Homo sapiens: one gene and its partners. The protein of the gene in region 1 interacts with the protein of each later gene in a pairwise test. Each region holds a gene or a part of one and is shown on either strand. Other genes may lie near its edges. The genes, in order: MAL, JAML, NKAIN4, GSG1L, AMHR2, SYNDIG1 and CXADR.

Region 1 (4,402 bases):
CTAAAGGGAGGAGAAGTGTTCTAGACAGAGATTTCACAGGGGTTTGGTGGAGAAGTGACTTTTCTGGTTTTTCAAGACCAGAGGCTGGCTTTGGTGAGGACTCAGTAACTTTGAGCTGCTCCCTGGAAACTGCTAAGTGTGATGATGGGGCTCATCTCCACAGGATTGTCAGACATGTGTCATCACACCTGAGCTATATTTTAAAAGATTGCCTTTTAGCTTTTCATAAGTCACTCCCCCACCTCACAGGGATGGGGCAATGCCAGAACTGGTGCAAAGGCACCCTTTCTGTCCCAGTGCTTTCAGAAGTGAGTAGGAAGCCCCACGATGCTGCTGCCAGCAGCGCTCACACTCAGGTCGGCCAGGGACAAGGGCTGAATTTTGCACCTATACTCGCCACACCAGCAGGCGAGGGGCAGAGCATATTGTGCTGCCAGCACAGACTAGCTCTGCACAGCCTTAGCAGTGGCTTGGCTTTGTCCTGGGCCCAGACACATTCTCCAGAGAAGGGGCTGGGAGTAGGGACTGGACCACCTGGGACCTGCCTTGACACAGGACAGAGCCAGCCAGACTTGAACTAGAAGGGGCTGGGGGCTGACTTAAGCCACTCCAGGGCTTCCTCCTGGCCCCTCCAGTGTCAGTGCCGGACATGGTGCTTTGGACCAGCAGGCCTCAGGGACAGGTGCTGATAGGACACCCCAGAGGGTGTACCCTCCTGGTGTTGATGGGTGTGAGGACAGTGGGGGACTGTGCCCCTTGTCCTTGAAGCAGGAACGTTCTGGGGTGTGTGGCCAGCTCCTTCTCACAGCTTTCAGATTGTTCCCAAGGGCATGGAGCATGGAGCAGGTCCCTCGTGGTCTCTCATCAATTTGGAAGGCTCCAAATTGCCTTTGACACCCTGGTGAAAGGTTTGATACCCAGTGAGCTCCTAGCTGGGCATGAGCAGTGTAGCCATTTCCCTTCTTGGGGTCATGAACGTGCCACACTCTGCTTCTCTGCAGCACTTCTCCCCAGGCTCTCTGCCGCTGCTACCTCATTCACAGCTAGTGTTCTATGCCAGGATTGGGTGAATCATTTTAATGTACCCGGGCCCTGGGTCCTGCAAAACATATGTAGGAAATCAAAGGAAAGCCTGTCACCAGCCACAGCACCTCCGCAGCGGGAAGAGAAGGTGCAGGGTCGCACAGCCAGCCTCACTGACCTGCAGTTCCTGGCCACAGCCTCCAGTCCCTGTGAGAATGCAGTGGGCTGGGAGGGGAGGGGCTGGAAGGGCAGGGGGAGGAGACAGAAAGTGAAGGTCCCAGAACCAACTTGGAGGGAGGCCCACGGGGGGCCCGGGAGGTGGGCACTCCAGGAATAGGGCCACGGGGAAGGACAGAAGATGACGTTCCCTGACCTGTCAGTGGAGTGGGGCGGGTGGGGTCTGCATGGCAGCCCCTCCCTCTTCTTCAGACTGAACTACAGGCCTGCATCTGCCGAAGAGGGAGCGGGATCCTTTGGCATTTCATCTTGTGCTGTATGTGTCTTAAACACAAACCTTGCTATTGTTTTCCTCTGAAGAAACAGAGGATATTGAGACTCATTGTTTCAGTGGCGGGCCAGGGAGGGAGAAGCCGGCTGGGAGTGGCCTAAAGACTAAGTGGTTATTCGCCACTTAGTTAACATGGAGGAGGCTCCATGTTAACGCGCCTGTAATCCTGGCACTCTGGGAGGTCAAGGTGAGAGGATCACTTGAGGTCAGGAGTTTGAGATCAGCCTGGGCAACATAGCAAGACCCCATTTCTACAAAAAATGTAAACAATTAGCCAACTATGATGGCTTGCACCCATAGTCCCAGCTACTCAGGAGGCTGGGATGGGAGGATTGCTTGAGCCTGGAGGTCAAGGCTGTAGTGAGCTGTGATCGCATCACTGCCCTCCAGTGTGGGTGACAGAGTGAGAACCTGTCATCAAAACAAAAATCTCATGGCCATTTCCAAAGCTGACCCTAGACACAAGAGGTAACTGTCACACCCATGGGGGCCTGGATCTGGGCCTCAGCCAGCTCATCAAAGGAGCACCCGGCAGCTGTGGGAACGTGGGCAGGTAACTGTGCCTCAGTTTCTGCATCAGTAAAATTTGGACATAGCAGCACCTGCCTCACATAGCTACTGCCCCATAGCTATCAAGTGCTGTTATTATTAGTTGACTAATAATTTAAGCATCTGCTCTGAAACCAACTGGCCGACCTGTGCCGATGGCAGGGTCCGCAAGGCCCGCCCCCATCACCTTTGCCATAGGTGCCCTCTGTTCCATTCTCAGGCAGGTGCTGCATGAGGATTGGGATTGGGCCAGGCTGTGGAGGGCACACTTGACTTTTCCCTGGAGTCACCGAGTCCTGCACAGACACCACCTTCCTGGGGCCTTCCCAGTGGCTCTCCTCTCACCAAGAAGGAACAACTGAGGGCAGAGGTCAGTGTGTCCTCAGCTAAGAGCTTGATGGAGCAGCCAAGGGGTGGAGGACAGTGTGGCAGCCCCAGCCTGCCTTCTGCCCAGGGAGCAGGCTGCTTTCTAAGCCTCTCTGCATCACCCTGCCAGCCTGGTGCCAAGATGGGCAGGCAGAGCTTTGTGGATTCTGAGTGTGACACATAGCTACATCTGCCCGCAGGCGTAGGAATGAATTATCAGCAGGCTCAGATTAAAGCTTTCAAAAGCGATTTGTCATCAGTGTCAGTGTGTCGGCTGTATGCAAGGGCATCAGTTCAGGGAGGGGGCAGCCTCTGGCAAAAACCTGTGCCCTCACCTCCCCCAGCCTCCATCCTGGCCCCCAGCTGCTTGGCAGGAGGGCATAGTTGGATTGAGGGGCCTGGCAGGAAAGGAACCGCCGAGCTTATGGGTCTCAGGACTATTTCTAAAACCAGCCACAGACCTCCTTCATCTCCATCTGTGGTCAGGTTGGGGGCAGCAGTGGGAATGCTTCTTTGTTGGAGGTGACCCTTTAGGCCCGAGCTAACCCATCCCCTCCACCGGGAAGCCCACCCTTCTAGCACCCTTTCCTGGCACTCAGAGCACATCCTGCAGACCTTTGCTTATTGTCTGTCTCGTGCCTACACCCTAAGTCTGCCCACATCCCTGGCACAGATCAAGAACTCTGAAACATTTGTTCTCAGCAAGCATCGGTAGGGAAGGGGCTCGGGTCTCCTCTCTCACCTACCTAACACTGATGAATCATAAGATGAGTCCTTGACCTCAAAGGCGGACAGAGGGTGAAACTGACAAAGGCTGCCAGTCCCCAAGAGACTCTGGGAGTTCCATCTCCCTTGGACCCTCCCAGACCCTGGGCGGGCAGCCTTCTGTCGCCTCTGGCAGGTGTACACCTGTTTTGTTGGTTTGTTCACATTACTAACCTACCTGGTGACTCCCATAAATCCCTTTTGTTTTTCTTGCATTTAAGCCACTCCTGTCTGGTCCAGCATTTCCACGGATTTTGCCTTTTACAGGTGGCTTACCCAGTATTTTCACAGAACCTCTTGGTTTCTGTTTATCCTGCTGGGTAAGGCCAGCAGGTGTAGATGTGGTAGGCAGAATTTTCCATTCAAATGAAGACATGCCTATCAGAAAGCCCCTAGATTTGTGGATCTGAGAGGAGTTTTTGTGCATTCAGGAACTAGTGACCATCCTCTAGCTCATGAGGGAGGTGGGTGTTAAGTCAGCAGTCACTTTGTCCTGCTGGCAGCGTGTGCTATGGGAGAGGCTTCCCTGGGGCTCAAGGGGGGTGAGATTGCAAGCCTGAACAGGGGGCTCTTCCCAGTCCAACTTGCCTTGTTAATATAAACTATGGCCCTCCACTCAGCTCTTAGATTTTTTTTTTTTTTTTTTTTGAGACAGAGTCTTGCTCTGTCGCCCAGGCTGGAGTGCAGTGGCATGATCTCGGCTCACTGCAACCTCTGCCTCCTGGGCTCACGCCATTCTCCTGCCTCAGCCTCCTGAGTAGCTGGGACTACAGGCGCCCACCACCACACCCGGCTAATTTTTTGTATTTTTAGTAGAGACGGGGTTTCACCGTGTTAGCCAGGATAGTCTCAATCTCCTGACCTCGTGATCCGCTCACCTCAGCCTCCCCAAGTGCTGGGATTACAGGCGTGAGCCACCGTGCCCAGCAACAGCTCTTCGATCTTTTAATCCCAAATCTCTATCCCCTTCTTCACAAACTGATCCAAACCCGCTGAGTCCTGCTCTTGCCTTCAGATTAGATAAGGAACACTGTCTAAGGCTAGCTGGGGGTGATGATGGCATGAGGGGTCCCTCTGGGAGGAAGAAGCCTGCTAATGAAGAGGCCAGGAGGGGAGAGTGACTGGTGTAGGTAAACCAAGTCAGGTCCCAGCCCCGCTCCCAGGGTTCTCTTTGGTAGCAGTCCCAGGGGT
Region 2 (4,402 bases), on another chromosome or scaffold:
AAGTTATTTTTAAAGAATCTGCTATATGAAGAATACTTAAAGCCCCAGTCCTGATGGGAAACTTACAACCAAGATGGAGGAGATACATGTAAAATAATAAAGACGTATATAATACATCAGGCAATAGTAAGAGCCTACGGGGAACAATAAAGCAGGACTTTGTGGTTTTTGTTATGTGGGTGCTTGGGGAGCCCTCACTGAGATGACATTTGAGGAGAGGGAGTGAACCCTGCATATGTGTAGGGGGAAGAGTGTTCTTGCAGTCATAGACAGTAGCAAGTGCAAAGGCCTTGCAGCCAGTATGCAAGGAGCAGCCAAGAGGTCCATGTGGCTGGAGCGCAGTGACCCAAGTAGGTGAGGGAAGAGCAAGTAGAAGTTGAAGTCAGAGGTAAAGGGAGATGGGCTGGGTCATGCAGGGCCTTGCATTTTAGTAGAAATGGGAGTGGGGGCCATGAAGGGTTTTGAGCACAGGAGTAACATGATTTAACTTACATTTTTAAAGGCTCATCTGCTGAAAATAGATTGTCATAGAGAATAAGCAGGGAGACAAGTAAGAAAGCTGTTGCAGGAATCTAGGTGAGAGATGAGCTGGACCAGAATGGTATCAGTGGAGGAGGTGAGGACTGGCTGGATTGGGGATATATTTTGAAGGTAGAGGTGATAGGATTTGCTGAGGGATTCAATGTGATTTGTTCCAGAAAGACAGAAATTAAGGATGACTCCAGGATTTTTAGCCTGAGTATCTGGAGGAAAGCATTGCCATGTACCAAAATGGGATGGACTGGAAAGAACTGGTTTGGGGGAAAGATGAAGAGTTCAGTTTTAGACATGTTTCAGGTTCCTATTGGAAATCCAACTAGAAATGTCATCAAGAATAAAAGTATACTTTTGCTTTTTTTTTATTGGAAAGGTGCACAAAATGAAAGTCCTCCTTTTCTTATCCCTCCATTCAGATGGAAAAACTGTTCATGGTTTTGTGATGTCCTTCACAAGTACACACGCATGCACATGTGTGTGTACATGACTTTGTGTTATTTAATGCTTTCTGATAATACCCTTACTGCCTTCACCTAGCAGGGCCTTGGAGTCCTGAGATCTTCCCTCCCCCATTTTCTCTGCTCCCCGCTCCACTCCAGTCCTCACAATATCATACTTTTTGTCTTTCACTTCTAGGAGGAGATTGTATTTCGTTACTACCACAAACTCAGGATGTCTGTGGAGTACTCCCAGAGCTGGGGCCACTTCCAGAATCGTGTGAACCTGGTGGGGGACATTTTCCGCAATGACGGTTCCATCATGCTTCAAGGAGTGAGGGAGTCAGATGGAGGAAACTACACCTGCAGTATCCACCTAGGGAACCTGGTGTTCAAGAAAACCATTGTGCTGCATGTCAGCCCGGAAGAGCCTCGAAGTATCTAACATTTGGCTGGGGAGCATTGAGGGACCTCCTGGCTGGTGCATGGCGCCAGGACTAGAGTGAGGCCGGAGAGGTTCCTAGGATGCAAAATTGAAGGAGGCATCCCTCTCAGGTGCTGACTCTGGCCTTGCACAACCCTGAGAATGATGCCTCCTTAGAGGTGGCTCCTCAGGTGCCTGGCTTGCCTCACCCTAGTTCTGGCCCTGCTGCTAGGCCAAGGGGAGGGGAGCTAATTTAGTGAATACCAATCCTCTGCCAGACCCCACTCATTGCCAGGGTCATCTACTGATGTAAAGATACAGAAGCTCAGGGAAGGATCGGAGTTGATGTCCAAAGTCAGCATACTTGGTTTCAAGGGAGGTGCTGTATGTGTTAGAGTGGAGCGGGAAATGATCCTAAGCTAGTGAGAGACAGCCAGGAACAGAGAGGAACATGCAGGCACCAGAACCAAAAATGGAGGGTTTTCTGATCAGAGGTTCTGGATTCTGGCAAACAGTGTGCATCAAGGCCAGTGCTGTGTAGGAGAGGAAAGACTTGATTGTGTTGACAGAGAGAGGTTGATAAGTGAGGGGTTAAAGTTAAACCATAACCCAGTTAGCAATCAGGATGTGGCCTGTGGACTTTGCCTGTCGCTAGGGCCTTCAGGAGTTGGCTGTGGTTGGCTGGGGGTGGGGAAGATGGGGTGAGGATGGAACATACCTCATACCTCAGGCCAGAGACCTAAGTCTGTGGAGGCACCTTGTCTCCAGCTGGAGAGGGGAGCACGGCAGGTCTGTGTGCTTCCTTCTCAGAAGTCCAATTCACAGAGAAAATCGAGCCATTATGGGGGCTCATGCAGCTTCTCCACCCACAAACATATCTATGTCTCCCCCATTCTTATCTCTGCCCTGCCATCCTGAGGCAGAGGAAGGTCCCTTCTGCTCTGGGCTTATCTGGCCCCCTGTGCCCAGGTGGTATCCTTCTCAGGAACCTTACAACATGGCTCTTTGAGCTCACTTTCTGTTGGTTTCTACCATTCAATGGATACGTTTGCTCAATTCTACTACTTAATTACTCCAGCTCCATTCTATGTCTTTTTTTCTTCAGCTCCATTCTGTGTCTTTCTTTTTCTTAAGATTGTTTTCCTGAGATACAATTCACATACCATACAATTTGCCCATTTAAAGCGTTCAGCTCAATGGTTTTAGTACATTCAGAGTTGAACAACCACCACCACAATCACGTGTTTCTTTCTCAACATAGCCAAATAGCTTGCTAAAGGTCTGTGTTTGGTATCTTACTGTCTCATCTCCCATTAACTCCTCAGTGCACTGCATTCTGGCTTATTCTACCTCTACTCCAGCTTAGATCACCAATGGCACTGCAATTATCCATCCTCAGCCTTCTCTCCTTCAGTAGCATTTATATGCACTCTATGTTGGACACAGTTCCACACACACCCATGGATATACTTAGTCAACTCTACACAAGTTTTCCACAAATCCTTCATATGCAACATGTCTAACCTACCCCTGCACACCCCTCCTCAGCCCATCTCCCCAACCTCAGTTGTCTAACTAGATGCCTGGGGGTGTGCTTGATTCTTTCCCTTTCCTAGACCCCTAATCTAACAGGTCAGGTCAACAAGTCCTTGACTCCTACTACAGACTCTTGAAGTTGTCTTCCTTCCAGTCTGTCACTGCCGCCTTAGTTCTGGCTGTCTTCATCTCTGTCTTGAACTGTAGGCCTCTAACCAGTCTCTGCTTTCTCTCTCAGCCACTGCTCCTCATTCTTCACGCGGCTCTTGGTGCCATCTTTCTAAATCACATTAAGAACTTTCTCTTCCACTGCTAATAATCTTTCAATGTTGTTTTCATTGCCTGCAGAAAAATGCCAGATTCTTGGTTGAGATAGTCAAGGTCCTTCCTGACTTGGACCCTGTCATCTCTCCAGCGAAATTCTCCAGCACACCCACAAATGCCACTTTTGTGCCAGACCCGTTGAACTCTTTCTAGTTTCTAAAATCATCATCCTGTCAGGCCTCCAGATCTCATGCAGAACATCCCCTCTGTCCTTCTCCATATTGTCTTCCCAACAAACTGGATGTTTCCTGTAAGTCTTAGGTTAAACTTTAGAACTTTTGCTGGCAAATTCTCACTTGCTGCATATAGAATTGGACACCCTTTTTTCTGTGCCCCTCTGTTCCCCATACAGACTTCTGTTGTAGCGCCTACAGCAGCCTGTGGTTTTCTGTTGACGTGTTTGTCTTCTTCCTTGGAAGCAGGGACCACACATCATCATTCATCTCTGAATCCCCTGTACCTAGTGCTGTCTGGCCCTGAGGAGGTGTTTGCTTTATGTATTTAGAAAGAACCATGCAGATGAGTAGAAGGTTCCATATGGGCAGAAGTACCTCCGGAGGCTTTACTTGGTATCGTCACTGTGGGGCTGAGTCTTGCGGCATGAGTTCTTTTGAAGACAACCACTTGCCCTAAGGAAGATCAGCAGCCTCTCAAATGCCTGTTATTTCTGGGTCCTTGTTAAGCCAAATTTTAGAATAGAATTGTTGATGTGAAAGGAAACTTTACTAGAGGTGAACTGCTAGCCTCTTCTCCCACCCACCTTAATCTACATTTTAGGGTAAACGAGGGGGTTAGACTTTGGTTCTCAATCTCATGGAGACAGTGTCCCTAGTGTCCAGATATGGGGTGGAGTCTGGCCTTCCCCTCCGCTTCGTGGCCTGGCTGGTGCTACTTGGTATAGGGCTGTGGGGCTCTCAGCTCTTTGCTAAAGTATTGAGACCCTCTCCTTGCTTTTCTACTTTCCCAAGCACTGGTGACCCCGGCAGCCCTGAGGCCTCTGGTCTTGGGTGGTAATCAGTTGGTGATCATTGTGGGAATTGTCTGTGCCACAATCCTGCTGCTCCCTGTTCTGATATTGATCGTGAAGAAGACCTGTGGAAATAAGAGGTACAGGGCTACCCCCACCCCTTGGATTGGGAGGCTG
Region 3 (4,402 bases), on another chromosome or scaffold:
TGCAGGTGAATGGACACCACCCTCCTGGGGCCACGTGGGGTCCTTTGTCCCAGCCCGACCAACCCTCCAGGCTGGTAAAGCCTCGTGCCTCCTGCAATGCAGGGAACCAGGGGAAACGTGGGGGGAGGGGGTGGGAAAAGGCCATCGCTGAGCCGACCCTGACCGAGGCTGTTCAGGGGAAACAGGGTGGGGGCCATTGCTGAGCCCACCCTGACCGAGGCTGTTTCAGGCACTTTGCTTACAGCTCAGAGGGTGGTCCTAAAGCCAGGGTGGATGGATTTTGGTCTCCCCCAGGGGCTCTCTGCTCTGGCCAGTGTAGCACAGGTGGGCACTGGGGCAGGTGCCCAGCCAGGCAGACGGGCCCCCGCTTCCTGGAACCACACCTGGGGCTGCAGCCGGGAAGACTGTCCCGAGGCAGACACACGTCACATGGCAGCTTTGGCCAGCGACACGAGGAAGGGGCCCGGTGCCCCTGAGAGCGAGTTCTGGGGTCTGGGCAGGGAGGCCTTCCTGGAGGAGGAGGTGTGTGGGTCGAGGGCAGGCGCAGGAGCGGCTGGGAGGGCCTTGGTATTCCTTTCCCCACCATGGCTGGAGCCCTGGGGGCGGGGTGCAGTGGGAGGACAGGGGAGGTGAGAGGACAGGACCTCCCCTTGCCTCGGTGTGGTGGCGTCCCCGCAGGCTGCAGTGGGTGAGGCCGCCCACCTCCTGGTGCTAACCGGCCCTGCTCCTGCACCTCTCCCCTAGGACAGCGAGCTACTGACCTTCAGCCTCTCCCGGCATCGCTCCTGGTGGCGTGAGCGCTGGCCAGGCTGTCTGCATGAGGAGGTGCCAGCAGTGGGCCTCGGGGCCCCCCATGGCCAGGCCCTGGTGTCAGGTGCTGGCTGTGCCCTGGAGCCCAGCTATGTGGAGGCCCTACACAGTTGCCTGCAGATCCTGATCGCGGTGAGCGTGGGGAAGGGGGCCCCCGGGTGGGGATGGGTTGATGGGGGAGGGGACATGGAGCTGGGGGCTCATCTCCCTGAGGCGGGGCCAGCTGACCTGGCCTCAGGCGTGTCTCTGCCTTCCTCATCCCCCACCCTTGCTGGAGAGGTTAAGGTATCACGGGTGGGTCCCATGTGGCTGGCACCTCAGTGCCTCCTCTGCAAACCACCTCCCCCAGGCGGGGCCAACCCAGGCGCTTTCTCAAGTTGAGCGTGGTGTTTGCTGTGGGGAGTGGGAAGGAATCGGATCAGGCCGAGACACCCCGCCTCTGGCTTTGACGGCCCCAAGGAGGAGGGGCATGCATCTTCCTGACAAACCCATCCATGCGTGTCCCGCCTGTTCCCTCGGCTGCCCCGAGCCCATGCCGGTCACAGGAAGTGGACAGAGCCTGAGGCTGGGCTGGCAAGAAGCCCCTCAGCCTTGTCGGGAACCCTGGCGTATGCATCTGGCAAGGCTGGCGCCACGTGACCCAGGTCTGACCGGACAGGGATTCTGTGGCCCCGGGTGGCGCTGAGGAGCAGCTGTTGCTTGTGCGGGAACGGGACTCTGCCGTCCTCTCCGGCCCTGCACGGGTTGGTAGAGAACAGGGGCTACGATGCTGCTCCTGGTATGGCCACACGGCCACTTCCCCGCTGTGCCGCCTCTGTGAGCCTAACAACCTCCGTGTGCCTCAGCTCCCGCCTCTGTAAAATGCAGATGGTGTCAGTGCCTTCCTCGAAGTGCTCAGAAAGAGGCAAAAGCTGAGGCGGGTGTGTGGAGGGTGCTCGGTCAGCGTTTCACCTCAAGAGCTCCGGGGGCAGGGCCAATGTGACTGCAGCACGGCTGGTGCCGTCGCTGGAGGAACTTCTGACCGATCTCGAGGCTCCCTGGCTTTTCCTGGTGCGCACGGTGGTGTCGACGCAACACACCAGGTGGACCTGGGGCTTCCAGGAGCGAGGCTCCATGGCCGGCGGCTGGCGGTGGGAGCTGAATTCCAAATCTAAGGAGCCCGTGGCCTGAGCACACGTGACGGTGCGGGTGGCCTCGTGAGCTCCCGGGGCTCCTTCCTGGGCTCTGCTCTGGTCCTGCAGGAAATCAGGCCAGGAAGGTGCTGCCCCATAGCAAGGGGCCACAGACGCACCCTGCCAGCTCCAGTCGGGGCCTGTTTCTCCCACCAAAGCCAGTCAGCAAGGCACAGAGGGGGCCCCAATTGCCCCCAAAATGTGTGGAACCCAGGTGCCTGCCACTGGAGGAGAAAGAGCCAATTTCCCAAGTGTGCACATCAAAGCTCCTGAGATTAGGCTTTGTGAGGAGGCAACAGAAAAGAAGCTAGGCTGGGTGCGGTGGCTCACACCTGTAATCCCAGCACTTTGGGAGGCCGAGGCAGGCGGATCACGAGGTCAGGAGACTGAGACCATCCTGGCTAACACGGTGAAACCCTGTCTCTACTAAAAATACAAAACAATTAGCCGGGCGTGGTGGCGGGCGCCTGTAGTCCCAGCTCCTCGGGAGGCTGAAGCAGGAGAATGGCATGAACCCGGGAGGCAGAGCTTGCAGTGAGCAGAGATCACGCCACTGCACTCCAGCCTGGGTGACAGAGCGAGACTCTGTCTCAAAAAAAAAAAAAGGAAGCTTGAGGGGAATGAATGAAGAGTCTCTCGGAGGGGGCTGGCGTGCTATGGGAGCCGAGGCTGGAGGAGTGGGCACTCTGCATGGTTGGGGAGATGGGGCCTCCTGTTGGCTTTTATCCTGACTCCCAGGGATGGGAATTTCTTTGATAGGATGTAGTTTCTAAATTCCAGCCAGCTAGTCCTCGCTAGGATCTCGCCCCTGCTGTTTGCTTTGGAGGGTCTGGGAGAGGCTGGCGGCTTGGTTGGCCTCTGCCCAGCTGTGCTGGGGATGGAAATGGTGGTGGCAAGAGAGTCGTCTGACAAGGCCAGGCTCTGGGGGTTGGGGTGCGGGGCCTGCAGATCCCAGGCCTCCATGCAGCAGGGAGAGGGGAGAGCTTTGGGGTGGACCTGGGGCTGGAGCCAGGAGGATGGGCAGGAGGCGGTGGTGTGCAGGGCGGGGAGCATGGGGGTGTGGGACAGAGGTGGCCTGCAGGTCCCCAGGCAGGAGGGCACCGGCTGGAAGGGGCATCTTCCAATGGCTCCCCAAGCTCGGCTGCCTGTTCGGCGCCACGGCCAGCTCCGGGATGGGGGCGTCTTGGGCTCCTTTGGGGTGAGGAGGGGGACGAGCCGTGGAGGTTGCCCACCCTCACCGCTGCTCCCACCCTGGCCGTGGCATGGAACCAGAAATGGCCATTTGGGACAGCTTCTTGAGCTTGTCTCAATATCAAGGAGATAGGTCTGCCTGCTTGGTGGTAAGAGAGGTCTCCTGGCCCCTGACTGACCCCTAGAAAGGAGCTGGATTTCCAGGAAAGCAACCACCAACTTGCCTGTACCAGATGGGGTCGGGGGTCGGGGGGACGGAGCCCAAGCATGTCCAGCCCTGGGGCCTGGCCTGCGTGTCCTGTCTCCTCTCCTGGGCACGGTGGCCTTCACGGGGGGCTGTTGGGCCAAGTCTATGGAGGAAGAAACCAAGACCAGAAGATGAAGTGAATTTTTGGGGTCACCCGGCTGCTGAGTGGTTGGCCTGAGGTGCAACCAGGAAGGTTTCCTGCCTCGTTCCGGGGTCCCTCCAGTCACAGACCCACTGCCGCCTCCCTCGGTGTCTGTGGCCTGGAGTGCCCCTGGCCAGGCCCTCTCGCTCATGCTGTTGGTGTTTCTGGCTGCGGCAGCACTGCCCCCCCTTTGCCAGAGCCCTTTTTCCCTCAGTGGCCCTGGATGCAGGTGTCTGCGAGGTGTGTGGGGCTTTGCAGCGGCCTGCCCTCTGCCCTGGACTCCCAGTCCCTCCCCTCTCCCTGCCTGACCCCTGCCCCAAAGGCAGCAGCCAGCCCCCAACTCTGCCCGGAGTTGCCCGCTGGACCCCGAGTCCTCAGCCTGTCTCTCCTGCACTTTGCCGGGCTCAAAACCAGAATCCCAGATGGCTTGCTCCACAGAGGAGGAGGAACCCCTGGTGGCTGCTGGCTGGAGTGGGCTGGGGCCAAAGGCAAGAGGCCCGAGGGGACGCAGGGCTGGGACTGTGCTGGCCTGGGGTTCATCCAGCCTGGGCTTCTGTGTCCTCACCCCGCTCCCTGCAGCCACTCAGGCTGACCTGCTCATCTTCCCCACCCAATATCCATTATCCTCACCCACCTGCCCCCTACCCAGTTGAGTGGGGTGGGGTGGAAGGCAGGGGTGCGTCCGGAGCTTGAGAGCTGAGGATACCCACGGGTCAGCTCTCCCACTCCAAGTCACAGAGGAGGAACCTGAGGTCCAGGAGAGGCAGGGCCTTGGTGGTCAGGGGCGCTCCAGTGCTTCGGCCCACATCGCCTCAATGACACCCCACAGGCTCGCCTGGC
Region 4 (4,402 bases), on another chromosome or scaffold:
CTCAGGGCTCAGCAGAGGACGAGGACGAGGAAGGGGACAGGAGGCTGCAGGGTGGGGCAGCAATGAGGAGCTGGACTGTCTGTGGGGCCCTTGGGAGGGTTTCAGTCAGAAGAGAAGCATGGCAGCGCATGGGGTGAGGAGACCCACACAGGTACCCTGACTGTAACAGGCCCCTCTCTCAGCCTGCCACTGTGTCTTTCCCCAGCCACATCAGCCTCCTTTCCATCCCTCAGGCACTCCAAGTGCGTCCCCACCTTGGGACCTTTCTACTTACTGTGCCACGGGATGCTTCCGTGAGGCCTCTCCTAATCACTGGGTCTAAACACACACTCCCCACAACCTTATCCTAGACACTCTAACCCATTGCTATTTTTTATGTTTTGGAGACAGGGTCTCACTCTGTTGCTGTATTAGTCGGTTCTCATGCTGCTAATAAAGACACAACTGAGACTGGGTAATTTATCAAAGAAAGAGGTTTAATTGACTCACAGTTCAGAAGGGCTGGGGAGGCCTCAGGAAACTTAGAAGTATGGCAGAAGGGGAAGCAAACACGTCCTTCTTCACATGGCGGCAGCAAGGAGAAATGCCGAGCAAAGTGGAGAAAAGCCCCTTATAAAGCCATTAGATCTCATGAGAACTCCCTATCATGAGGACATTATTAGGGGTACTGTCCCCATGATTCAATTACCTCCCACTGGATCCCTCCAATGACAGATGAGGATTATGGGAACTCCAATTCAAGATGAGATTTGGGTGGACACAGCTAAACCATATCAGTCACCCAGACTGAGTACAGTGACACAAGCACAGCTCACTGCAGCCTCGACCTCCTGGGCTTAAGTGGTCCTCCCTCCTTGGCCTCCCAAGTAACATGTGCCACCATGACTGGCTAATTTTTTCATTTTTAGTAAAGATGGGGGCCTTGCTATTGGTTGTCCCAGATGGCTTCAAACTCCTAGCCGCAAGCAATCCTCTGACCTCAGCCTCCCAAAATGCTGGGATTACAGGCATGAGCCAGTATGCCTGGCACCATTTCTATTTTTTCATAGCACCTGATACAACCTGCCAGGATTTTCTTTATTTGTTTGCCAGTTTGCAGACTGTGAGCTCTGGGATAGAAGACCTATGCCGTCTTGTTTCCCACTGTGGACCAGGAGCCTAGAATTGGGCCAGGCACCTACTAGGAGCTCATTCAGGGTTTTCTGGTGATTGACTAGACTCTTGTCTTTGGAGGCCTCAGCCCTGGCTCCCTCATGCTCTTTTATTTCCATCTCCACCATCATCTCGCTGATTCAGTGCCCCAGCACTTCCATGCCAAAGCCCCAGGAGAGAGGATGTGATTGCTCGGTGTAGGTCAGGTGTTCAATCTCGGGCCAGGCAGCAGTGGCCAGGAAGATCCGGCTAACCTGGCATGCGGCTCATCTCGTCCCAGGCTGTGGATGGTGGCAATGCCCAGCATGGCACAGGGCCCGAAGTGGGCACTCAGCAAGTGTTTGCAATAGACACATAAGCAGCCAGATGTCCAAAGCTGCCCCATTAGCACTGCGGTCAGTTGCCACCCCTGCTACGGAGATTCACCTCCTTGGGCATCTGTGGGTAAAACACACCTCATTTTGCTGAGGCAGAAGACAAGACCTCTCCGTACCCCATCAACAAGAAGCTGCTGTTTGCTGGTGCCCCAGTTCCAATGGCTCCTAACAGCTCAGCCCCAAGATGAATTCTTCCCAGCATATGTGCAGAATATCACTTTACACATTCATAACTTGAACATTATGCAGAGGTTCATCAAATTTTATTTCCCTTCCCCTCTGAGGAGAGCATTTCAGCTTAGCCAGGCTGTTCTATTTCTTTTCCTTTTTTCTTTTTTTTTTTGTGCTTTCCCTACAAAGAGCTCAGAGCACATAGATGTCTGCATAGGTTTGCAGGATGGCTCAGATGCAGGGCTGACATCTTACAGTGGCCAGCATCCTTGGAGCCGCAGCCAGGAACTCAAGGGAGGGCGATCCATGGCCCCACCTGCCCAGGTTTCCTTCTCCTCCACGGGGGACAGAGGGTGCTGTGGAAAGAGCAGGGGTTTGGAGTGAGTTTTCCAAATCTATCTCTTTGCTGCTATGTAATTTGGGGTGAGGCGCTGAGCCCCTTTGAGCCTGTTTCCTGTGACCCAGGATGGGAGAATCCAGAGCTCTTGGTGTCTCAGGGAGGCTCAAATTTGAAAACCCATGTGACATGCCGCGCCAAGTGCCTGGCACATGGAGGGCTTTTTGTGTGTGAGTTCCTGTCCCTTCTGCTCCTAATGCCCTCACCAGACCCCAGAGTGAAGCATGAGCTTGGTCATGACCAGCTTAGGATGGAGATGGCGAGGGTATTTCGAAGCATGGCTGATAATCTCGTTATTATCTGTGGCCCTGTATAAGGCTCTCCTCTAAATACCTCAGATGTGACTCAGTTAATTTCTGCGATGCCTTTCTATGTGTAAGTGTTATTGTCACCTCCATTTTACAGGTGGCAAATCGAGGCACAGAGAGGGAGGGCGACTTGCCCCAGGTCACACAGCTGGTAAGTGCCAGAGCTGGGATTTAAGCCCAGGCCACATAGTCCTTCCCTGTGCTGTGTGGCCTCTCAGGCTTGATCAATTATCTCTGCTGGGTATTGAGCTAGGACCTGGGCACACAATGAGAGTAAAGGGAGTCCCATGGCTGAGGAGTTCATCGCAGGAGGGGCAGGTGAGGTGAGAGACAGACCGTGAGTGGGTTTCTGGTATGATGCATTCTGTGGGACAGAGCTCATGGGCTCCCTCACGCCCCCACGTTTCCTATCTGTGGGAGAGGGCTTTCTGGAGCCCATTTCATCCGAGTCTTTCCTGCTGTCCTCCTGGAGACCAGCGACAAGGTAGTGCCCTGCGGGGGCTGATGGACAGGAAGAAATTAAACTGTCCCTTTCCCACCCCTACCCCCACCACCCATGTCCTGTTGGATTACCCTCTGCAAGAGCCGACTGCATGGCTGAGGAGCAGTTGGGCAGATTTGAAATGGTGTTCAGCGCTGTCGAAGAAAGGCGTATTATGTGTGTGTGTGCGCGTCTGTGTGCGTGTGCGTATGCATGTGCACATGGTCATGTGGAAGGACCAGTATGCACATGTGTTGGGTTTGCTGGATTGGAGGGCCTGCACCCCCCAATTCCTGCCCCACCCCTGAGAAACATCTGGAATTAAACCCTCCCAGCGTCACCCTGCCTGTCGTCCCCTCCTTCGTCTTAATCGGGCCTCCCAAGGGGAGGGTCAGATGCTGCTGAATGAAAGGTAAATATTTGCAGATTGGGGCTTTCTTGAATACTTAATGCTCAGATCTGGTTTAACAATGTGTGGAAGAAAATCAGACCTGTTGGATTGGATCCCAGAGGGAATTCAGCTGTGCCAAACAAATGACCCGCCTCACTTGGGAATGTGGCACTGTGTGGGGGACGGAAGCCCCCGGAGCTTTTTGGGAGGGCAGATCTTCCTTCCTGGGACCCCTGCACCTCTCTCTGTACCACTTAGGACTCTCTGAAATTACTTGTTTATTTATTTTCGTGTTTATGTCTGGCCCATTTCGGTGCACACTCCACGAGAGCAGGGAGCCTGCTTTTCCTGGTTACCACTCTGTCCCTGCACCTAGAACCACAGAGGCCCAATCAATTACGGTATTAATTATTAACAATATTAGGCCAGGCTCGGTGGCTCACGCCTGTAGTCCTAGCACTTGGGAGGCTGATGCAGGCAGATCACTTAAGTCTAGGAGCTCGAGACTAGCCTGGGCAACATAGCAAGACCCTGTCTCTACAAAAAAATTAAAAGATTAGCTGGGTGTGGTGGCATGTGCCTGTGGTCCCAGTTACTCAGGGAGGCTGAGGTGGGAGGATCACTTGAGTCCGGGGGATCAAGGCTTCAGCGAGCTATGATGGCGCCGCTGCTCTCCCACCTGGGCTACGGAACAAGAACCTGTCTTGAAAAACCAAACCAAACCAAAAAAACATTAATTCTATTGTTAAGTATAGTAGAAAGTTATGCAGTGCCTCCTGTTGCAGACACTGTTTGAGCGCCTGGCTGACTTCATGCATTCAGCCCTTGTGGAACGCCTGAAGAAATAGACCAGGGTTGGAATTAACTTCGCAGTTTACTAGCTGTGAGTCCCCAGGTAACTCGCTTCACCTCTCCGAGCTTCAATTTTCCTGGCTGGAAAATGAGCTAATGCCTACCTTGAGGCTTTGTTGTGAGGACTTTATGAAATGATACAATTATGTTTCTGGAAACAAAGCTGGGGTTCCCCTCTCCCTGCCCCCGCCCCCCTCACCCCATCCCTCTGTTAGAGACCTCCCTCTGTGCAGGGCAAATAAGATACACTCCCTGCCTGAAAAGGGGGCCTGT
Region 5 (3,561 bases), on another chromosome or scaffold:
CCAGGACAGCGTACAGGAACCCAACAATGTGGTGTGCAGGTCTTTAAGCACTGTTAGGGCAGTGATTTTGTTGTCTTTACCCTTCTTTCCCCAGTGCCCACCATGAGATCCCACCTTTAAAAATAAATGTTGAGGCTGGGTGTGGTGTCTCATACTTGTAATCCCAGCACTTTGGGAGTCCTAGGCAGGTGGATCGCTTGAGCCCAGGAGTTCAAGACCAGCCTGGGCAACATGGAAAAACCTTGTCTCTATGAAAAAATACAAAAATTAGCCAGGTGTGGTGGCACACATCTGTAGTCCCAGCTACTTGGGAGGCTGAGCTGGGAGGATCGCTTGAGCCCAGGAGGTCAAGGATGCTGTGAGCTATGATCACAGCCTGAGTAACAGAACAAGAGCTTATCTCAAAAATAAAAATAAAAATAATCAACAATTTACTTTGGGAGGCTGAAGCGGACAGATCACAAGGTCAGGAGATCAAGACCATCCTGGCTAACATGGTGAAACCCCATCTCTACTAAAAATACAAAAAAATTAGCTGGGCGTGGTGGCGGGCGCCTGTAGTCCCAGCTACTTAGGAGGCTGAGGCAGGAGAATGGCATGAACCTAGGAGGCGGAGCTTGCAGTGAGCCAAGATCGTGCCACTGCACTCTAGCCTGGGCGACAGAGCAAGACCCCCGTCTCTAAATAAATAAATAAATAAAATTTAAAAAATAATAAACAATTTAAAATGCTGGGTGCAGTGGTTCATGCCTGTAATCCCAGAACTTTGGGACACTGAGGAAGGAGGACTGCTTGAGCTCAGGAGTTTGAGACCAGCCTGGGCAACATACCAAGACTTCACCTGTACAAAAAATAAAAAATCAGGTGGGGCGCGGTGGCTCATGCCTGTAATCCCAGCACTTTGGGAGGCCGAGGTGGGCAGATCACAAGGTCAGGAGATGGAGACCATCCTGGCTAACAGGGTGAAACCCCGTCTCTACTAAAAATAAAAAAAATTAGCCGGGTGTGGTGGTGGGCGCCTGTAGTCCCAGCTGCTCGGGAGGCTGAGGCAGGAGAATGGCGTGAACCCGGGAGGCGGAGCTTGCACCGAGCCGAGACTGTGCCACTGCACTCCAGCCTGGGTGACAGAGTGAGACTCTGTCTCAAAAAAAAAAAAAATAGCTGGGTATCGTGGTCCATGCCTGTGGTCCCTCCTACTCAGGAGGCTGAGGCAGGAGGATCACAAGAGCCCAGGGAGGACAAGGCTGCAGTGAGCCGTGATCGTGTCATTGCACTCCAGACTGGACAGAGACTCTGTCTCCAAAAAAAGAAACCAGATAAATAAATAAAAATAAATGTTAGTGGAAAAGAAGAGAGACAAGAGGGTCCCTGGATTACAGGAATAGAGGAAGGACCAAGGATATGCATCAGGAAAGCTGACTTTATTCTCTTTCCTGTGCACACCTACCCCAAGTCACTGGTCAGAACTGATGTGGACTGGATGCCCGCAGAAGAATCCAAGGATTCGGCAGGTGGGAAATGCAGTGATGAGGCAGACAAGACAGCTATACAATCGCCATATTTATGTTGGCATGTACATTGATGACACATAAACTGCATATTTACACAGGAGAAAGGGTACAGGCAGGCTGAGGATTCCTGGAACAAGGGCCTTGCTGAACGCTGAAGTGGCAGGCACTCCGCTGAGGCCTACAGGGGAGGATGGTAGGGGCAGGAATTGAAGTACAGTCTTCTGGGCAGAGAGGTGGGCAGCCACGTGGACAGCTCTCTGGAAAGGGGTGGCTCTCTTGAGGATGGGCCAAGGCAGCCAGGCGCTGCTGTACACACTCAGCTGTCAGCCGTGCTTCTGGGTCTGCATCCCAACAGTCTTCTAGGAGCTCCCTCAGCCCATCAGGGTCCTGGGGGGAATGACAGGGAGGAAGGGTTGACCCTAGGATCTTGAGTGGGCCCCAGGGTTAAAAGCCATCTTCAGTGTCCATCACTCTCCTGCTTTCAACATCCACTTCTGATCTTTCCTGGAGCCTCCCTCCTCTCCCTCTTGCTGAATTCCAGCCCTCTGAGTCTTGCTCCCTATGAAACAGGCTCTCTGGGGGCCTTCTGTATAGCCCACTGTTTCCTCTGAGGAGCTAATGTAGGTTGACAGCTTAATATGCTAATGGGAAATTACTCTCTTTCCTCTCAGAGAGCCAGAGTCTTCTGCAAGTAATGCCCAGTTTCTGTCAGCCAACCTAAGACTTGTGCCGTGGAAATTTCAGATCAGGTACAGAAGGGACATTTTGTTAAAAAAGTATTTGTGCAAAGCCCTGAACTTTCACTGTGACGCCACTGCTTTCACCTTTTATACCTAGAACTGCCTTTTATTGGGTCACAGCAGAAACATCATCAATGTATGACAGAATGGGGACTTATTGAATTGATTTTTGGGCTTTACTGTATTAGGAGAGCAGATGGGGCAGAGCTCAGGGCAAGAGCAAAGCCAAGGAGGGCTTCCTGGAGAAGGGGACTGAGGAACAGGGCTAACTGATGGCAGAGAGGAGAGACAGGCTGGGCAAGGTTGAGCAGGAGGAAGGTGTGTGTCTCAGGTAGATGGAATCGACTGTGTGAGACTTAGGGTGGAAGAGGATGAACTGACGGGGAGAGGAGGCTTGCCCAGTTCCAGCTGAGCATGAACCAAGGAGTGATGGGAGATAAGTGGAGATAGGAGTAGACAGACACTCTGGCAGAGACGTCCTTGAAGCCCATGCCCAGCCCCCACTCTCCAGGTTCCCAGACCAACAGCCTAGGCCTCTTACTGTGGCAAAGCAGCGCCAGGTGGATGGGATGTAGGGACGCCTCCTCTCCTGCACTGCCAAGGCCCATAGCTCATCAGAGGTAGGGGTATTGCCCAGTTCTGCCTCATAGGCCAGTTGGAAGGGTGGTGGACTGCTGTCTGGAGGAAGGTAGAGGGGCTGGGTATCAGTTAGTCCTAGGGGTGCCTACCATGTAGAAAGGGCAAGACAGGGAAGAGCAGAGCTTTCTCAGGCCAGGTCAGGTTGGGGTGAACCTAGAATGGGCGGGGGGGAGCCCAGGAGAGGGGACTGTACCACCCATCCTTACCAGGCCTCAAATCTGGGCAGCGGCTCAGTATCTCCCACAGGAGCAGAGCCAAAGAGTAAATATCAGCTCGTCGGAGGGCCATGCCCCAATCCTGTAGGTCCAGAGTCTTGTCCAAGAGCTCTGGTGCCATGTACCTCTGGGTGCCAGCCTGGAGAGCAAGGCACGAAGGGCCAAGAATCATCTCTGTGGCAATCCTCATTGCAGCAATGGTCCATGCAATATCCCCCCAACTACAGACTCAGCAATGTCCCAAATGCTATAGGTATTGCTACAACTGTTGACACACAATGGCTGCATTGCCATCAGCAGCACCAACATCATCCTGGGCCTCACCAGTTATCCAGAGAACTCACTTCCATGATGGCAGCTGGGCCTTGTGGTTGAGTAGGGGTCCAGGCAGGGGGCTGAGTGAGGCCAGGGAGCACCAAGGCAAGGCCCAGGTCTCCAATGGCACACGATCCATCT
Region 6 (4,402 bases), on another chromosome or scaffold:
TGTCCTACAAGGCTTACTTGAGTGACAAGTTTTCACACCCAAATCCCAAAATTGTTCCCTCCACCTTTGCAGAATTTGCAGAGCATCTTATTCAGAGGAGAAAGAACAGCCTGTACTTGACTTATACTTCTACTCTGCTACAGAACATTAAATTCAGGAGAAATAATAAATACCTTTAGTATATATCATTACCCAAGATAGCTTGGTTCTCTCCCATAATTAAATATGATCCAGTTTTAATGGAGTCAGAGAGAGAAGGACAGACTTATCCCTGGGAGCTGCAAGCAGGGCTGCTATTTAACTGAAAACAAGAGGCAAGGATATCAGACTTCTATAGTTCTTCCCTATGTGGGTATTTGTAATGTGAAAAGCAAGACTATGATTTCCTCTAACACTTGGGCAGTATTTGGTGGAATCTGTCACTAAGTGACATAATCACTGACCACTGACCCAGAAGTGGGCATTGATGGTGGGGGCACCGAATCCTGGCTCTACCCTTGGAAGCATGACCTGGGAACAGCTACATGACTCTCGCAGCCTAATACCTCATCTGCATCTGCCCCAAGAAGTGTGTGATGTCAACTATGTGCGAGGTGCTTGGGGGCTTTTTATTGCTCCCCTAACTGTCCCCCCATTCTCCTTCCCACTGTATTTCACAACATCTATTTTTCTCTCTTTTGGGTCATTTTCATTATGAACAAGTATGCTATCATTTCTCCCACTTAAAAGCAAAAACAAAAAACAAAAGAACACTCTTGACATGACCTCATTAAATAGCATCCCATTTCTCACTCTCCATTTACAGCAAAACTCTTCAAAAAAAAAAAGATAACTAGATGTACTATGTTCAGCTACTCTCTTTGCACTTCCATATGTATATTTAAAGACAAGGTCCCATTCTGTCACTCAGGCCTGGGTGCAGTGGTGGGATCATAGATCACAGCAGCCTTGAACTCCTGGGCTCAAGTGATCTTCCTGCCTCAGCCTCATGACTAGCTGTGACCACAGGCATGAGCCACCACGCTCAGCTAATTTTTTTTTTTAAAATTTTTGTATACATGGGGTCTGTTGCACAGGCTGGCTTCAAGCAGTTCTTCTCCCTAGGCCTCCCAAATACGTGCATTTTCTAAATGTTTTAATTGAAGTATAGTATTCTTACAGAAAAGTGCACACACACACACACACACACACACACACGAAGGTGTAAATAAAGCTCAATGAGTTTCCACAAGCATACAGCCAGTACCCAGGTCAGGAAAGAGAATGTCCCCAGCACCCACAAGTCCCTCCGCGCCCCTCTGCTGTGCCTGCTGATCCAAGTCCCAGCAGTGCAGCTCTGCATCGCTGGATGGTTCCCTTCCTCTTGCTCTGGAGTCCGCTCCTCGGTGCTGTCCCTCCCTGCATGCCTGAAGCTGCTCATCAGCGGTCAATGCTCCCACGGGCCCCTCATCACCGCGCCGGTGCTTGATCCCCAGCTCAGGCCTTACACTCCTACCCTCGGCCCAGACGTCTCCCTGGAGCCCCCATGGTTCAGTGCCTCCACGCAGAGGCCGACAGCTCCTGGAGTTGAGAGGCCCCGCTGCAGGTGCTGCCTATCCGGCTGCAGGAAACCCCTGGTCCAGGGCATCCCTCCCTTCCCTCTTCCTTTCACACTGCAACCTAAGCCCAGGGGTCATTCACCCAGAAGACACCCCGCAGCTCCCCACTGCTTATGAAATTCCCAGCCACTCCTGCAGCACAGGACTCCACGGTTCTGCGTTTGACCACTGCCGTCGTCGCCCTGCGCCTCCCCCTCCGCCCTGTTCTCTGAAGGCTCCCGGGAGCATGTGGCCACAGGGGCTTCTCCTCCGCTCAAACCCCCGAGGCTTCTTATCCCAAAGTGGAAGCCCCGCTCGGTCACAGCCTAAAGAGTCTCGGGGTCTGCCCCTGTTGGCCCCGCCTTGTTAGTTACCCCTACCCCCATTCCCCACTCCACACCCGCGGCCCCCAGCCCCGCCGCGCCGGCCCCACCTGCCCCACGTGCTCCCCCCAGGGCCTCGGCACTGCAGGCCTCTCTGTCTGGAAGCTCCTCCCCAAGGGCTCCCCCTGGCTCAACTGGCGGCTTTATCAGAAGACACCATCCTCTCCGCGAGCCCCGCCACGGCCACCCTGTTAAAAACGTTTCTCCCAGTTCCACGCTCCCCATGTCCATCCGCAGCTAATAGCCAGTGAGTAAAACGGAGAAAAGTAAAGCTGACATTGCAAGGAAGAGAGGCAGGCGACGAGCACGTTAGCTCTGACAAGCGGGATTTGGTTTGCTCTGTTCACTGCTGCATGCCTGGCACTTACTGAACACGTGGGAGGTGTTCACTAATCAGTGGGTAAATGAATGGATTCCAAGGGGCTTTGCTATTAGCTAGGTTGCACTCTTCTAGATTTTCAGTACCATAAAAAGATTCTCTTTTTTCCCCTAGTTTGCCCAATTCCCTTTGCTGGTACTATTCATAAAATTCATAATCTGCTTCCTAATACCCTTTTCTCATTTAATTATTGTTATAATGTTGCAGTTAGTAAAGGAAAGAAACATTTTATGAAATGAAATTAGATCAAGACATAATAAATGCTTGGATGCAAAGACATCTGCCAGCACAGTCAACACAGGAACCCTCGGGCCTGCCCGGCGCAGGTCCAGGCCCAATGCCCACCTTGGGGGCAGGGATCTGGCTTTGGTCCCCGGCTGCCCCCATCACATGGGATGGAGTGAAGTGCCATGAAGACCAATGCCACACCATGCTCAGACAGGCTTTCCTCCCCTGCAAGCCTTTCCAAGCAGGGTGGGGGGATGGTGAATTTAGAAGCAAGGACTGTGGTTCTATTTTCATTTGCAAACAGATAAAAGTCAAAGCTACATTGCAGAAAATATGGCTTTAAGGGTTAGAAATATTAATATTTCCCTCATGTGCCCATACTTGCTACCTCTGTGATTTCTGTTACTTATTAAATCCCTTGAAACTTCAGTTTTGTTAATCTGTAAAATGGAGATAATAATTTTCCACCTTCTGGACTCACTGCAAAGATTAAATAAGATAAAGTGTGTGCATTAACTAGCTGACAGCAGCCACTCAGCCAATTATGGGATTCATGTCTATCCTCAGTATCATTCACAAATGTCAGTTCCTAGATGAAGCCACACCACCCTAATCGCACACACCCACATCCTCCTCTGTATGAACTGGTTTACAAAGCGTGCTTGCAATGGGGGCTGGATGGAACATTGTTGGGCAAAATGAAGTTGTAGACAACATGCTGCCCTCATCTGCCCACCCACCCCCACCCCACAGCTCAGGGACAAGCCAGATGCCTCCCCCAGAGAAGGCAGGTGCTTCCGAACCTGCACATCCTGCTAGCTCCAGCCTACTGCTCACCAATGTTGGCTTTAGGCACATCTCTCAATCTCACTGAACCCTGATTTCAGCACCCATGTCATGGAGTTCCTATGAGATAATGCATGTAAGACAGCAATATTCACAACCGAGCAACATCAGAACCCAGGGCATCCCTCCCTTCCCTCTTCCTTTCACACCACAACCAAAGCCCAGGGGTCATTTCTTCCAAAAGACATCCCGCAGCTTCCCACTTCTTATTAGATTCCCAGCCGAGACTGCAGCACAGGTCACCACGGCCCCTCCCGGGTGATGGCAGCAGCATCCATGAGGAGCTGGAGGCCTCCTCAAAATGCAGATTCCTGGGCTTTGCCCCAGAGACTCTGACTGAGCAGGTGTGTGGTGGACCAGACAGTGTGCATTTCTAGCAAGTGCCTAGGGGGTCCAGGACCACATCCTGGAAGCAAGGGTGCATGGCTCCAGCGCTGAACCTGGCGCACAGTAGGTGGTCAGCCAATGTTACCCACCTCACTAACACTTTGATTACTACTGTTATGCTACTTCATGAACATATTTTTAGAATTAGCAAAATCTGCTGGGAAAGGTGTGTCTGTGTCTTTCCAGGTGTTCCTTGGCCTCTGGACCCCCAGCACCTGGAGAACTCAGGTTTCCAGCAGGGCACGACCAGCAGCAGCTGCTCTGCAGGTGCCTCCTGGGAACTTTCACTGGCCTTCATCTCTAACCCTCAGCTAACCGCACACCCTGGAAATCATTTTAACATCACTGTATGGGTCAGGAAACAGAGGCATGGGAGAGCTGCCTGCTAAATGGGACCAGGCTACAACAGGACAAAACAACATACTGGAGGTGCATAATTCTAGAGATGGCATCCCTCATTTTCTCCACTGCCCAATTTAATCAGACCACCATAAGATGTTGTTTTGTTTTTCTGTAATGGCTTGGCATGTTCCTTTGACTTCACTGAACAGTTATTTTGACAATGAGCAGACACAGCCTGACTGTCAGTGAGTACACTGTGA
Region 7 (3,681 bases), on another chromosome or scaffold:
TCTAAAACCTTTCCCTAGATTTTAGTAGGGAGTTGGTTTCTGTTAATATCTTTGGGTGCTGTGGTGGTAAATGCTATATTATGAACGGTGGCATGTATTTACAGTTAGAGTATTGTGTGTACACTTTTTAATGGTAAACTTAAGCTGAATGTGTAATGGATTTGTGTATAGTTTTACATATTTGGAAGCATTTTAAAAACAGGTTTTAACCTTATGTAAAATTACTTTTATACTCGTGTTAACATTTTCATCTGTGCCTTTTGGTAATTTAATTTCTATTATGAATTTCTGGTGCCTATGAGCTAGCTATCACCTACCTGAAAGGTGCTTAGAGGTGAAGGTACTGTTTCTAAAAACACATCACTGTGATACCTTTCTATCCTCACATTTTCAAGCTTGCCTCTTTTCTGTTCTTTGTGGATATAACTTAAGCAATTGTGTTATTCATAAAGGTTTAGAAATTTCAATATTCCCAACACTCTATGTTTCTGATTTTATAACAGTAGCCATTTTTGAAAGTCAGATGTTTGGCCTGTTTTATATGAATAAAGTTTATTTATAAAATATTATAAAAAATAAGTAAATAAACAGAACATTAATAATAAAGTTTTGGTTCTTCCTATTCCTGACTTTCATATAATGAAAATTATCCTATTGATCTAAGTAGAAGTTATCATAGAAAGTGGACACGTATAAGACTTTCCTTCCTTTTTTTTTTTAATAACATATGAGGAACAAGACTTCTCTTCCCATATACTTCATATTTTAGAGGACATTGTTTTAAAGGCTTATGTCTCACTGTAAAATTCTGTCAGCCAAATAGTACCAATACGTTTTCAAGTAGTTCTCACTGATAATTTAGTTGAACCAGAGATCAAATATTTGCTCCCGAATTACTACTGGTAATCAAGTAGTTGAACAAAAAATTACTAAAGCATTTCCGTTAGATCAGTCAAGGACAGTACTGCATCTTTTTTTTTTTTTTTTTTTTTAAGACGGAGTCTCGGTCTGTCACCCAGGCTGGAGTGCAGTGGCGGGATCTCGGCTCACTGCAAGCTCCGCCTCCCAGGTTCACGCCATTCTCCTGCCTCAGCCTCCCGAGCAGCTGGGACTACAGGCTCCCATCACCACGCTCGGCTAAGTTTTTGTAATTTTAGTAGAGACAGGGTTTCACCGTGTTAGCCAGGATGGTCTCGATCTCCTGACCTCGTGATCTGCCTGCCTCGGCCTCCCAAAGTGCTGGGATTACAGGCGTGAACCACTGCACCCGGCCCAGTACTGCATCTTAACAGCAAAGCCATTTTATTCTACTTTATAACTGAGAGACTTGATACCATCCATCTCTTTAGGTTACAGAGGATAATTTGAAGAGAAATGTTACTGTAGAATATATAGTTCTGTACTTTTTTTTTTTTTTTTTAAGAGATAGGGTTTCACTATTGCTCAGGCTGGTCTCAAACTGCTGGGCTCAGGAGATCCTCCTGCCTTGGCCTCCCAAATTGCTGGGATTACAGGTGTGAGCCGCAGCATCCAGCCAGTTCTGTACTTTGAATATGGAGTAGTTTACAGCTATTTTTTTTTCTTACTGGTAATCTTAACTAATATGATTCCCTTGTTAGAGAGCCTCTCACTCCCCCACCCCCAAAAATGTCTACTATTCATGACAGTAACCAATTATTCTGGACAAATTGCTTCTTTTTAATTTGAGCTATCTGCCATGGACTTTCTAAAATGGAAACACAGCCTGAGTGTATCTTAGGGAGAGTTTGATTGAAAAAATCCAAATCACTATCCATATAGATCATGGATATAAAGAGATACCTGATTTTTATTAAAAAGATACTTTTTCAAATTTAAGAGTTAATCTTGGAAATTTGGAACAAGTAAAGGGGCAAGTAAACCTTTTGATGAAATATAAAAGGAACTCATTGCATGAAGTTGACTATCAAATTCTGTGATGTGTGGCTTCTTAAAAATATTCTCAGTGTCTTTTGTGTGCGTGCAGCATGTACATTTGATGTTATGTGAATGTTGAGTTTTTTCTTCTAATTTTCACTTCAGCAGTGTTTAGGGCTTTCAGATGCCTTATTCCAGTGTGAACAGAAAAAGTTCATATTTTATGTGGTTAATGCTTTGATGTGTCACATAAAGAGTAGTTTGTAGAAAATGTTGGCACAATTTTAACTTCTTAGTGGCTTGTGACATTATATATTATATATATATATGTACATATATCTTTATAACATTCCTGTGTTTAGTAGTGTAAATGTTCTGGGCAAGTTTTAATATTTTGAATGCCTTTGGATATTCCAGCAATAAAGGCATCATGTTCTGCAATAGGATTTCTTACTCATTTACCTATTTTAACACTAAAATAGACCACAACTGAGCACAAATTCCTTTTATAAATGTTATAGAAGCAGGGAAGAATAATAAACACATTTGTGAATTGTGGTTCAGTTTATTTATCTTTAGGGAAGGCTGATCATTTATCTTATAGCAGATAACCCCAGCCTCTTATTCATTATGGTTAACTTTTATAATTTATCTTATTTTATAATTTAAGAATATAGTACATATCAGTTGGGTTTGGTTTTGGTCATCGAGACTAAAAGCTCCATCAAAACAGAACTTTGTGTTTTCTGCTAACTTATTTAATGACACAAGTTTTAAGAGAACCACAATTCATTGATTCACTTATTCTTTTCCCTAATTGTGAATTTTAGTGATAAATACACCTGTACTACTGAGGAAAATATTCTGACACTTCACGTGTGCAAAGTATAGAACTGACAGTGTCAGTTTCAGATTTTGTATGTACGATTTCTGGCTTATATATCCAATGGTGCAGATTTTGAAATTTGTAAGAACAAAATTTGTTAAGAAAAACAACTTGCTCTAGTTTTGTGACCTTGTGTACTTTTGAAATAAAATCAAGAAAGCAGTTCTCTGCCTCATGGTGTGGCTTTATTGTGCCTTTTATACAGTGTCCACTAAAGCTTTAATATTTTATTCCTCCCTGCTTGCTGTGTCATGGTTTCCTTCCCCCCGTGTATCCTCTAAACAGAAAGAATAAAGATTGCGACAATCATATTAATACATCATTGAAAACATGTCAAGCATACAGACCATTATCTCCCCATTCCTGTGTGCTTATATAACAGTATATACTATTTGGGGTTGAAACCTCCAACGTTCTGTGATCATTTCAGAATTTACAGTATAAACTCAAACATTTTTCAGATACATTGCCCAATGTGTGTATATATACACAGATATGAGGATGGGAAGTCAAAGATCAAGGCACTGGCAGATTTGGTGTCTGGTGAGAGCTTACCTTCTGTTTCAAAGATGGGGCCTCTTGCTGTATTCTCACATGACAGAAAGGAGGAAAGGGAGCTTCCTCTAGCCTCTTTCATAAGGCCATTAATGCTATTCATGAGAGTGGAGTCCTCCTGACTTGATCACTTCCCAGAGGGGCCCCACATCTGAGTGCTATCACGTTGAGTATTAAGATTTCAGCATAATGGTGAGATTTGGGCTTCTGGCTAATAAAATGTATATCAACATGAGAATTTTAGGGAGGCACAGATATTCGAACCAAAGTAACATCTCGTTATGGCTTAAAGTATTTTCATTCACTGTAAATGTTGATTTCAGGAAAAACCAGAATGGGATGTT

Evidence for each region.
Region 2: the proteins of MAL (region 1) and JAML interact in binary tests that used the Homo sapiens proteins (3 or more experiments, as listed by UniProt).
Region 3: the proteins of MAL (region 1) and NKAIN4 interact in binary tests that used the Homo sapiens proteins (3 or more experiments, as listed by UniProt).
Region 4: the proteins of MAL (region 1) and GSG1L interact in binary tests that used the Homo sapiens proteins (3 or more experiments, as listed by UniProt).
Region 5: the proteins of MAL (region 1) and AMHR2 interact in binary tests that used the Homo sapiens proteins (3 or more experiments, as listed by UniProt).
Region 6: the proteins of MAL (region 1) and SYNDIG1 interact in binary tests that used the Homo sapiens proteins (3 or more experiments, as listed by UniProt).
Region 7: the proteins of MAL (region 1) and CXADR interact in binary tests that used the Homo sapiens proteins (3 or more experiments, as listed by UniProt).

The regions. Positions count from the first base shown.
Region 1 is NC_000002.12:95,031,829-95,036,230, forward strand, and holds part of MAL (myelin and lymphocyte protein), read left to right. Parts: intron 1-4,402. UniProt on the Homo sapiens protein: May be involved in vesicular trafficking from the Golgi apparatus to the cell membrane. Plays a role in the maintenance of the myelin sheath, and in axon-glia and glia-glia interactions.
Region 2 is NC_000011.10:118,200,437-118,204,838, reverse strand, and holds part of JAML (junctional adhesion molecule-like isoform 1 precursor), read left to right. Parts: intron 1-1,173; coding exon 1,174-1,411; intron 1,412-4,226; coding exon 4,227-4,365; intron 4,366-4,402. UniProt on the Homo sapiens protein: Transmembrane protein of the plasma membrane of leukocytes that control their migration and activation through interaction with CXADR, a plasma membrane receptor found on adjacent epithelial and endothelial cells.
Region 3 is NC_000020.11:63,244,118-63,248,519, reverse strand, and holds part of NKAIN4 (sodium/potassium-transporting ATPase subunit beta-1-interacting protein 4), read left to right. Parts: exon of another isoform or gene 1-744; coding exon 745-942; exon of another isoform or gene 943-1,664; intron 1,665-1,761; exon of another isoform or gene 1,762-2,636; coding exon of another isoform or gene 2,637-3,713; exon of another isoform or gene 3,714-4,402. Other genes in the region: uncharacterized protein LOC124904950, read right to left, coding at 2,637-3,713.
Region 4 is NC_000016.10:27,822,016-27,826,417, reverse strand, and holds part of GSG1L (germ cell-specific gene 1-like protein), read left to right. Parts: intron 1-2,502; coding exon of another isoform or gene 2,503-2,556; intron 2,557-4,402. UniProt on the Homo sapiens protein: As a component of the inner core of AMPAR complex, modifies AMPA receptor (AMPAR) gating.
Region 5 is NC_000012.12:53,429,514-53,433,074, reverse strand, and holds the end of AMHR2 (anti-Muellerian hormone type-2 receptor isoform 1 precursor), read right to left. Parts: coding exon 3,450-3,561; coding exon of another isoform or gene 3,430-3,449; intron 3,245-3,429; coding exon 3,097-3,244; intron 2,930-3,096; coding exon 2,793-2,929; intron 1,899-2,792; coding exon 1,602-1,898; 3' UTR 1,403-1,601; downstream 1-1,402. UniProt on the Homo sapiens protein: On ligand binding, forms a receptor complex consisting of two type II and two type I transmembrane serine/threonine kinases.
Region 6 is NC_000020.11:24,587,875-24,592,276, reverse strand, and holds part of SYNDIG1 (synapse differentiation-inducing gene protein 1), read right to left. Parts: intron 1-4,402. UniProt on the Homo sapiens protein: May regulate AMPA receptor content at nascent synapses, and have a role in postsynaptic development and maturation.
Region 7 is NC_000021.9:17,567,155-17,570,835, forward strand, and holds the end of CXADR (coxsackievirus and adenovirus receptor isoform 1 precursor), read left to right. Parts: 3' UTR 1-2,946; downstream 2,947-3,681. UniProt on the Homo sapiens protein: Component of the epithelial apical junction complex that may function as a homophilic cell adhesion molecule and is essential for tight junction integrity.